Regions from separate parts of the Homo sapiens genome. Here region 2 is linked to region 1. Evidence: fine-mapped expression QTL. A gene starts in region 1. The other region holds a variant in brackets. All regions are shown on one strand. Distances are from middle to middle.

Region 1 (4,394 bases):
TAAATGGCGCCCCCTGCAGCCCAATTCCTACCTAGACTAACATGCTCAGGTGCACCTTGGAACAGCGCTGGAAGACCCCTTGCCCCTCCTGTGGGCTTAGTAACAATTTGGGGAACAGTTTTTGGCCTATCTGGCAAAATGTAAAAGGCCTTTGACGCAATGATTCCTCTTCCAGCCTTTCAGAAATATGTACATACAGGAATATGTACTACGTACATGAAGATATATGCAAAGGAATGTTTATTAAAGCTTATTTTATATTGGAGAGAAAAAGGAAGCAATCTACATGTCTGTCAATAGGGGACTGTTTGGATAAATAATGCTCCTTGTATCCATTCATGGGATATTTTAACTCTTAAAAGGAATGAAGTGGATTTATCTGTACCCACATAGACTGATCTCCAAGATTATTTTCTTTTATTTTAAGATGGAGTCTTGCTCTGTTGCCCAGGCTGGAGTGCAGTGGTGCAATCTTGGCTCACTGCCACTTCCGCCTCCTGGGTTCTGATTCTCCTGCCTCAGCCTCCTGAGTAGCTGGGACTACAGGCGCCCAACACCACGCCCTGCTAATTTTTTGTATTTTTAGCAGAGACGGAGTTTCACCACGTTGGCCAGGTTGGTCTCAAACTCCTGGCCTCAGGTGATCCACCCACCTCGGCCTACCAAAGTGCTGGGATTACAGGCGTGAGCCACTGCACCCAGCCAAGATTTAATGTTATGACTGAGATAAACATGAATGAAAGCAAATCTTCAAAATATCTATGACTTGATCTCATGTATATACATTTGTGTCTGAATATACATTAGGTAGATGGGGAATGCATAGACGTGGAACAGGCAGAGCCTACCAAGTTGAGGGGACTGGACCTGAATCATTGGACGGAGGGAATTCGTAACAGAAAAGACTTTCATGTTTTACTCTGTATACTTAATTACTTTATGCTCTACCGCAACAATAATGTATTGTATATGTTTTTGTGTGTGTGTGTGTTTTCTTAGTCTTAAATTCAAAATATAAGGTAGCCCACTGGCTCTAAGCTACAAGAATCCTTATGAGTTGGGCAGTTCTTTGACAACTTTTTTTCCCACCTGGCGAAACTATCAAGGAATGTCCTACCACCAAGCGTGAGAAATTTTTGGCATTCCTGAAATAAATTCTTCTTCTGAGCCAGCTCATGTGGGCATCATAATCTCCTTGAAGGCTTTTAAAAGATTTAGATCTGAGTCTGTCTCAGATTCTCGGGCTCAGAACCAGAATTTCTCCGTCTGAGGCTACTATCTTGCTCTGGAGGAGGGAGTGAGAACTGGATCACTGGTTAGCGTGGTAACTGTTTTGGACAATTGCATAGCCACAGCCAGGAACACAGAAGGCAGAGAGGCAGCCTTGATCTGCAAGAGCTCCAGGTAATCCCAACGGGGACCCTTGATGGACAAAGGCATTCTCCCAGGCTTGGTGATGAATGTGTTCCACTTACAGCCAGACGAGACACTCACTCAGGGCTCTGCAGCAGAGAAGTTAGAGCTACAGCTTTTTTGCTTTGTGTTTTTACTAAAACTTAATTTGTTGTTGCACTTGTTGGATGGGCATGTCCCATAGGGGAAGTTTCCACTACTGTGCTCTAAACTTTGGGCTGCTTGTACCATCTTACTTATCCCCTCATTAATAATGAATTGAATAAAATCTTTAGTATATGCTAATTTCATATCTTTGCGAGAGTTACGATTTTACCTTTTCTTTTTAAAATTACCTTTTCATATTTCTATCACTCCCTTACCAGAGCAGTGAGTTTCTGGGTCTCCCTCTTAGGGGCAGACACTGTTCCATGTAATTAGAATTAATTTCTTGTTCGTAGGTAGACAGAGAAAAGCTGCCAAACTCCCAGGAGACAGGGGTTCAGATCCTGTGCTATGGCTGAGAGTGATGCCGAGGAAGACACTTCCCTCCGAGTCTTAGTCTGCCCGCCTGTGAAACTGGCTCGTAACAAACCCCTGACCCCAGGCTCGGTCGCCTTGAGCCCAAGACCTCACCCAATGCCCCCCGCCCCGCCTTCCCTCCCGGGCTCCCAGGAGGTGCGGGGACTCGGGGGGCGGCCCCTTCCTCGGGAGGCGCCCAGGTGGCACGTCGGTGCCTCAGCTCCCGGGGTCTCTGGGCTCCGCGCTGCCCACGGGGTGCCGAGGGGCCTCTGGAGGGGGCGGGTTCTCTCGAGCCAGAAAGTCCGGAGCCGCCCAGGAATTTTGGCTCGAACTGAGTGCATTTCCTCTCGGGCCGGCCGGGTGCGATCCGGGAAGGGCGGCTGCGGGCAGACGCGGCGCTGCGCTCGGCCAGGCCGGCACCATGCGGCCCCTGCTCTGCGCGCTGACCGGACTGGCCCTGCTCCGCGCCGCGGGCTCTTTGGCCGGTGAGTGGGGCGCAGGGCGCGGCAGGGGACCTGGAGCCGGGGAGACCCGCAGATGGCGAGGAAGGAATGAGCGAGAGAGACGGAGAGAGAGCTGGACACAGCAGCGAGATGGACAGAGAGGCAGATGCAGGGAGGGAGGGATGGAGAGAAAGATTGAGAGGAAACAGACTCAGAAAAAGGCAGAGAAGTAGAGCAACGGAGAGATAAAGGAGATAGGGAAGAATACACAGTGAAAAGGAAAAAGGAGAGGCTGAGACAGAAAGAGGCTTCCCCTGAACAGATATGAACTAAGATAGAAAGAAAAAGGAGTTTGAGAGACAAAAGAGAAGAAGGAAAGAGAAAAAGTGATTAAAATGGCAAGGGGTGGAGGGAGAGAGGATATTGAAGAAAAGAGAAAGATTTGAGAGAGACCAAAAAGGAGAGAGAGGGAAGCTCGATGCCCGGAGTAGAGCTGGCAAGAGAGAAGGAGCCAGGATCTGGAGTGGGAGGTCACAGCTGCTGGGTGGGGCAGCCCCGGAGGCCAGCTCCATCTCAGAGGGCCTGTGGAGGCTCAGGCCTGGCTTTATAGGACATTGCATAAGAAGCCACACTCCAAAGGATGAGTGACCCAGGCTAGCCCAGCACAGCCTTAAGGAACCAGGCAGTCGGGCCCAGGAGAAAGGCCACCGATTCACCTGCCAGGTGGCCTCAGGTGGATCTGCAGTCAGTGAAGAAGTCAGCCTCCCGGTTTCCAGGGAGCTTCTCTGGGAAACTGAGCTATGTTGGGTGGAGATGGGGGACTGGGTGGAGGTGGAGAGCTGTGCGGAGGAGAGAGGCTGTCTGGGTACTCCATTAGCTGGGTTCCTTGCTTTTCACTGTCCGCTTTCTTCCCCTCACCTACCCCTCAGGCGGGCGGATCACAAGCTCAGGAGATCAAGACCAGCCTCGCTAACATGGTGAAATGCTGTCTCTATTAAAAATACAAAAAATTAATCGGGCGTGGTGGCACATGCCTGTAGTCCCAGCTACTCGGCAGGCTGAGGCAGGAGAATCACTTGAACCTGGGAGGCGGAGGTTGCAGTGAGCCGAGATCAAGCCACCGCAATCCAGCCTGGGTGACAGAGCAAGACTCAGTTTCAAAAAAAAAAAAAAAAGAAGAAGGAAAGGAGGAAAGTATTCATGTATTAGTGTAATTTCACACTGATTTCATATATTTTTGTGCATAATCTTTCAGATTTTAGATGATATATCTTAACTTTTGATTATGAAAACTTTTGGATACAAAAAAATACAAAGTAATAGTATGTGAAAGAATCATGTAATATACTTATCAACGCTGCTTCAAGAAGTATCAGTTCATGGGCAGTTTTATCTCATCTATAGCCTCCACCCTCTCTCCCCTCCCTGGATTATTTTAAAGGAAATCCAGGCATTGTATATTTTCTTTCTTTCTTTCTTTCTTTTTTTTTTTTTTTTGAGACAGGATTTCATTCTGTCACCCATGCTAGAATGCAGTGGCACAATCTCAGCTCACTGCAACCTCCGTCTCCCGGGTTCAACTGATTCTCCTGCCTCAGCCTCCTGAGTAGCTGGGACTACAGGCACGCACCACCACACCTGACTAATTTTGGTATTTTTAGTAGAGATAGGGTTTCACCATGTTGGCCAGGCTGGTCTCGAACTCCTGGGCTCAAGTGATCCACCTGCCTTGGCCTCCCAAAGTGCTGGGATTACAGGTGTGAGCCACAATGCCTGGCCTGGCATCATGTATTTTCATCTATAAATATTTCTTTGTGTACCTCTAAGAGATAAGCACTCTTAATAAACATAACTGCAATGCTATGATCATACTCCAAAAACTGTGTGTGATTGAATATCATTAAATATTCAATCACTGTTCAAATGTCCTTGATTGATTGTGTCATATCTTTTTGCAATTCATTTGTTTGATCCAAATAAGGTTACATACACTGCATTTGGTCAATATGTCTGTTAGATCTCTTTAAATATGTAAGT
Region 2 (4,394 bases), 150 kb before region 1:
CATACATACCTGCCCGTGGGCTGAGTGGATTGGCAATGACAATGGTGACAGCTGACATTTACTGAGTACATGCTGTGTTCCAGATGCTACATCTCCATTTCTTAGATGAAGAATCTAAGTCTCAGGGCCTCATCCAAAACCATACAGCTAATAAGCAGTACAGTTAGGATCTAAGCCCAGGGAATTTTACTCTAGAACTGACAGTATTAATCACAGTGCTCTCTTGGCTTATATTTCTAAGGCATATGCTGTAACCACTATATATATATATGTATATGAGATGGGGTTTCACTCTGACACCCAGGCTGGAGTGCAGTGGCGCGATCTCGGCTCACTGCAACCTTCGCCTCCCAGATTCAAGGGATTCTCCTGCCTCAGCCTCCTGAGTAGCTGGGATTACAGGCACGTGCCACCATGCCCGTATAATTTTTTGTATTTTTAGTAGAGATAGGGTTTCGCCATGTTGCCCAGGCTGGTCTCAAACTCCTGACCTCAGGTGATCCACCCGCCTCGGCCTTCCAAAGTGCTGGGATTACAGGCGTGAGCCGCTGCTCCCTGCCTATAACCATTCTTTTTTAGGGAGGTGTGGTAGATGGTGCTACCCTGGATCTGTAGTCAGGATTTGAAGAAGGGAGAAGGTATTTGCTTGTGAAGAAGGCACCATGCATTGTGCTCAGTAGTGGTGACTGGAGAGAGAGCTGGGAGGGGCACAGGCAGCAAGGTCCCTGCTTAAAGGCAGTTATCTAGTTTGGAGAAACTTAGCTGGATAGTCAGTTCTAACATGCATTTGGCAAGCACTTATCATGCACTGTAAAGAGGCAATGTGTCTAGTTTGTTAGAGGGTGGGCTCTGGAGTCAGACTCCTGGCTTTGAACCCCAACTTCCCTGCCATTTTCAAATGACACTGGAGAAGTCACAAAACCTATTTCTGTCTCAGATTCCTCCCCAGTAAGAGTGGGATGTTAATAGTACCTCCTTTGGCTTGATATGAAAATTCAATAAGTTGATATATGCAGAACATCTTAGAACAGCGACTACCTTAGAGTAAATCTTCAGTAAGTATAAACTAATTATACTATGTTTTTGGCACTGAAGCCACGTCGCAGTGAGTAAGACAGTTCCTGACCTCAAGAATCTCAGAGTCTAGTACTGGAGACAGGTAAACAAATACTTGCAAAGTGTGTGGTGTGAGAGAGGTGTGACGGGTGGGCGGGAGCCTGCAGCAGGCACGTCTGACTCATCCTAGGTGTGTATAGGGCAGAGAAGTTAGTCTAGGCTTTCTAGGGGCACTGATGTCTGGGCCAAGTCTTGCAGGGCAGGGAGCTAGTCAGGGGGAGCTGTAGTGATCCAGCTGGGGACTGAGCAGGAGGTGAAAGTGAGCAGCTCGCATCTGTAGCGTTGCCAGATTTAGCAACGGAAAGTACAGGATGCCCTATTAAATGTGAATTTCAGATAAAATAATAACTTTTAAGAATAAGTATGTGTCATGCAATGTTTTTAGTATAAGTATGTCCCAAATATTGTATAACCACACAAATTATTTGTTATTTATCTGAAATTCAAATTTCACTGGGCATCCTATGAAAAGTCTGGCAATTTTATCTGTCCACATTTAGGAAGGTGCAGTGTGTTTCAGAGTAGCTGGAGTGATGCAAGGAGGAAAGGCAGAGTGGGCCGGATGGGGCTGAGAGGCATGCAGGAGGCAGTTCATAAAAGACCTATTCTATGTTAAGGGATTTGGATTTTATCCTGAAATTAATGATGAGCCCTTGGAGAGCTTTAGCCACAGGGATGTGAAACTGTAGCGATATCAGTGTCAGGCATGATGAAATGAGTGTTAGTTTCTATGGCTGAATAGCAAATTACTCCAAATTTAGAGTCTTAAAACAGTAAACATTTATTATCTCACAGTTTCTGTGTCTCAGGAATTCAGAGGCAACTTAGCTGGGTGGTTCTGGCTGAGGTTTCTCATGAGGTTGTAGACAAGATGATGACCAGAGTGGCAGTTATCTAAAGGATACACTGGAGCTGGAGAATTTGCTTCTAAGGTGACTCACTCTAATGGTTGGGAAGGCACTGCTGGCTGTCAGCAGGAGAGCTCAGTTCCTTGCCACAGGGACCCACCACAAGACAACTTGAGCCTCCTCACAACATGATAGCTGCCTTAGTGATCCGAGACAGCAAAGTGACCTTAACTTTGGAAGTCATATGCCACCTTGTCATTCCCATATATCCTAGTGCTAACACAGCTCAGCCCTGCTCAGTGCAGAAGGGTCCTACACAACGATGTACATACAAGGAGGTGGGGATCATGGGTCATCTTGGAGGCTGCTTATCTGGGATGGGAGGCTTACATGGTGATGCCTGTGACCTTGGAAGTGGAGGAGAATGATGGGCGTACAGAAGAGTGGAGAAAGGCTGGGAGGAATAGAGATGTGGCAGAGGAGGGGA[G/A]GCAAAGAAAAAAGAAAGGGGGAAGGGATGTTGGAGCAGATTGTAGTCTGTCTGCAGCAAAGAGCATCACCAAAGCCATTCTAAGGGAACTAGATCCACCTCCTTCTCTCCTGGGCATGCCCCAAAGATGGTTGTGGCCTCCAGAGAGGACCCCAAAAGAAAGCACAAAAACTAGACAGTGGGAGGGCAGTACCCAAAAGCCCTGAGTTTCTGAGCAAAATATTGAAAGTTTCTATGGTGAAATAGGAAGGTAACACGCTTAGGAAGAAAAAAGTGGTAATGATTCAAGGAAACATAATCACACACAGTTTCAGTCTTAATGGACAGGGGAGGACCCATAAAAGTAATCTATCATCTATCAATTATATCAACTGTCTATCTGTGATACCCTACCCTGTTTTAACCTGAGTGACTCTCTCTTAGCTGAGAGAGCCGGACAGACTCCATTTTAGCTTCTTCACTTGCAGCCCCCTTATCCCCCCTCCCTTAGGGGAATAACTAGTGCAAGCTGACTCCAAGCACATCCAGGAATGCACTTACTGATAAGATATTGAGGCAAGCTGTACCAGCAGCTGCTGGGGATGTGCTCAGTGGATGGTACCCAAGCCCCTGCATTTATCTCTTTGTGATAGTTTAAGCCCCTGCACCTGGAACTGTTTATATTTCTGTAACTATCTCTGTAACCATTAATTTTTTTAAACTTTTTGCCTGTTCTGCTTCCGTAAAAATTGCTTCAGCTAGGCTCCCCATCCCCTATTTAGATCACAGTATAAAAAGAAATCTAGCCCCTTCTTCAGGGCCGAGAGAATTTTGAGCTCTAGCCATCTCTCGGTTGCCGGCAGTAAAAGGACACCTGAATTAAAAAAAAGAAAAAAAGAAAAAGAAACTTATGGGATACCAAGCAGATTTAACCCAAATAAGACTACCTCAAGATATTTAATAATCAGATTTCCAAATGTCAAAGATGAAGAAAGGATCCTAAAAGCAGCAAGATATAAGAAAAAGATAACATATAAAGGCGCAACACATCTGGCAGTAGATTTCTCAGTGGAAACCTTACAGGCCAAGAGAGAGTGGCATTATATATGTAAAGTGCTGGAGGAAAAACTTGTATTCTACAATATTAAATCCAGTGAAAATATCCTTCAAACATGAAGGAGAAATACTTTCCCAGACAAATAAAATCTTAGGGATTTTATCAACACCAGACTTATCCTACAGGAAATGTTAAAGGGAGTTCTTCGATCTGAAAAAAGAAAGGATGTTAACAAGCAATAAGACATCTGGCTGGGCGCAGTGGCTCACGCCTATAATCACAGCCCTTTGGGAGGCTGAGGCGGGTGGATCACAAGGTCAGGAGTTCAAGGCCAGCCGGGTGAAAGTCCGTCTCTACTAAAACTACAAAAATTAGCCAGGTGTGGTGGCAGGCAACTGTAATCCCATCTACTCATGAGGCTGAGTCAGGAGAATCACTTGAACCCAGGAGGCAAAGGTTCCAGTGAGCTGAGATCATGCCACTGCATTACAGCTTGGGTGACAGAACAAGACTCCATCTCAAAAAAAAAGAAAAGAAAAAGAATCTGAAGATACAAAACTCACTGGTAACAATAAGTACATAGATAAATATAGAATATTATAACACTGTAATTGTAGTGTGTAAAATACTAATGCCTTGAGTAGGAATACTAAAAAATGAACCTATCAAAAATAATAAGTATAACAACTTTTTAAGACACAGCAAGTATAATAAGATATAAATAGAAACTAAAAAGTTAAAAAGTGGGAGAATGAAGTTAAAGGGTAGAGTTTTATTTGTTTTCTCTTTGCTTGTTTGTTGCTTGTTTTTGCAATAAGAGGTAAGTTGTCAACAGTTTAAAACATGGGTTATAAAATGTTATTTGCAAGCCTTGTGGTAACCTCAAATCACAGATACACAAAAAAAT

Which allele goes with the higher level. Positions count from the first base shown, and alleles are read on the strand shown. Sizes are in standard deviations (SD) of each study's normalised expression.
In carriers of allele G in region 2, the expression in stomach of the gene that starts at base 2,303 in region 1 tends to be higher than with A alone (small effect, 0.35 SD a copy in GTEx).

The links. PIP is the estimated chance that this variant, and not a neighbour inherited with it, causes the effect. A credible set is the group of variants that fine-mapping cannot tell apart.
Region 2: its variant is the best candidate, but not a certain one, in a credible set for the expression of PLAC9 in stomach (GTEx, PIP 0.79).

Annotation. Positions count from the first base shown.
Region 1 is chr10:80,130,428-80,134,821 of GRCh38, forward strand. PLAC9 (placenta associated 9) reads left to right here and starts at 2,303. Exons shown (of 4, transcript NM_001012973.3): 1 at 2,303-2,399. The coding sequence starts at 2,336.
Region 2 is chr10:79,983,820-79,988,213 of GRCh38, forward strand. No RefSeq gene overlaps it. Among named protein-coding and RNA genes, the nearest start is that of SFTPD, 37 kb to the left of the region's middle. The variant G/A (reference allele first, on the strand shown) is at 2,452.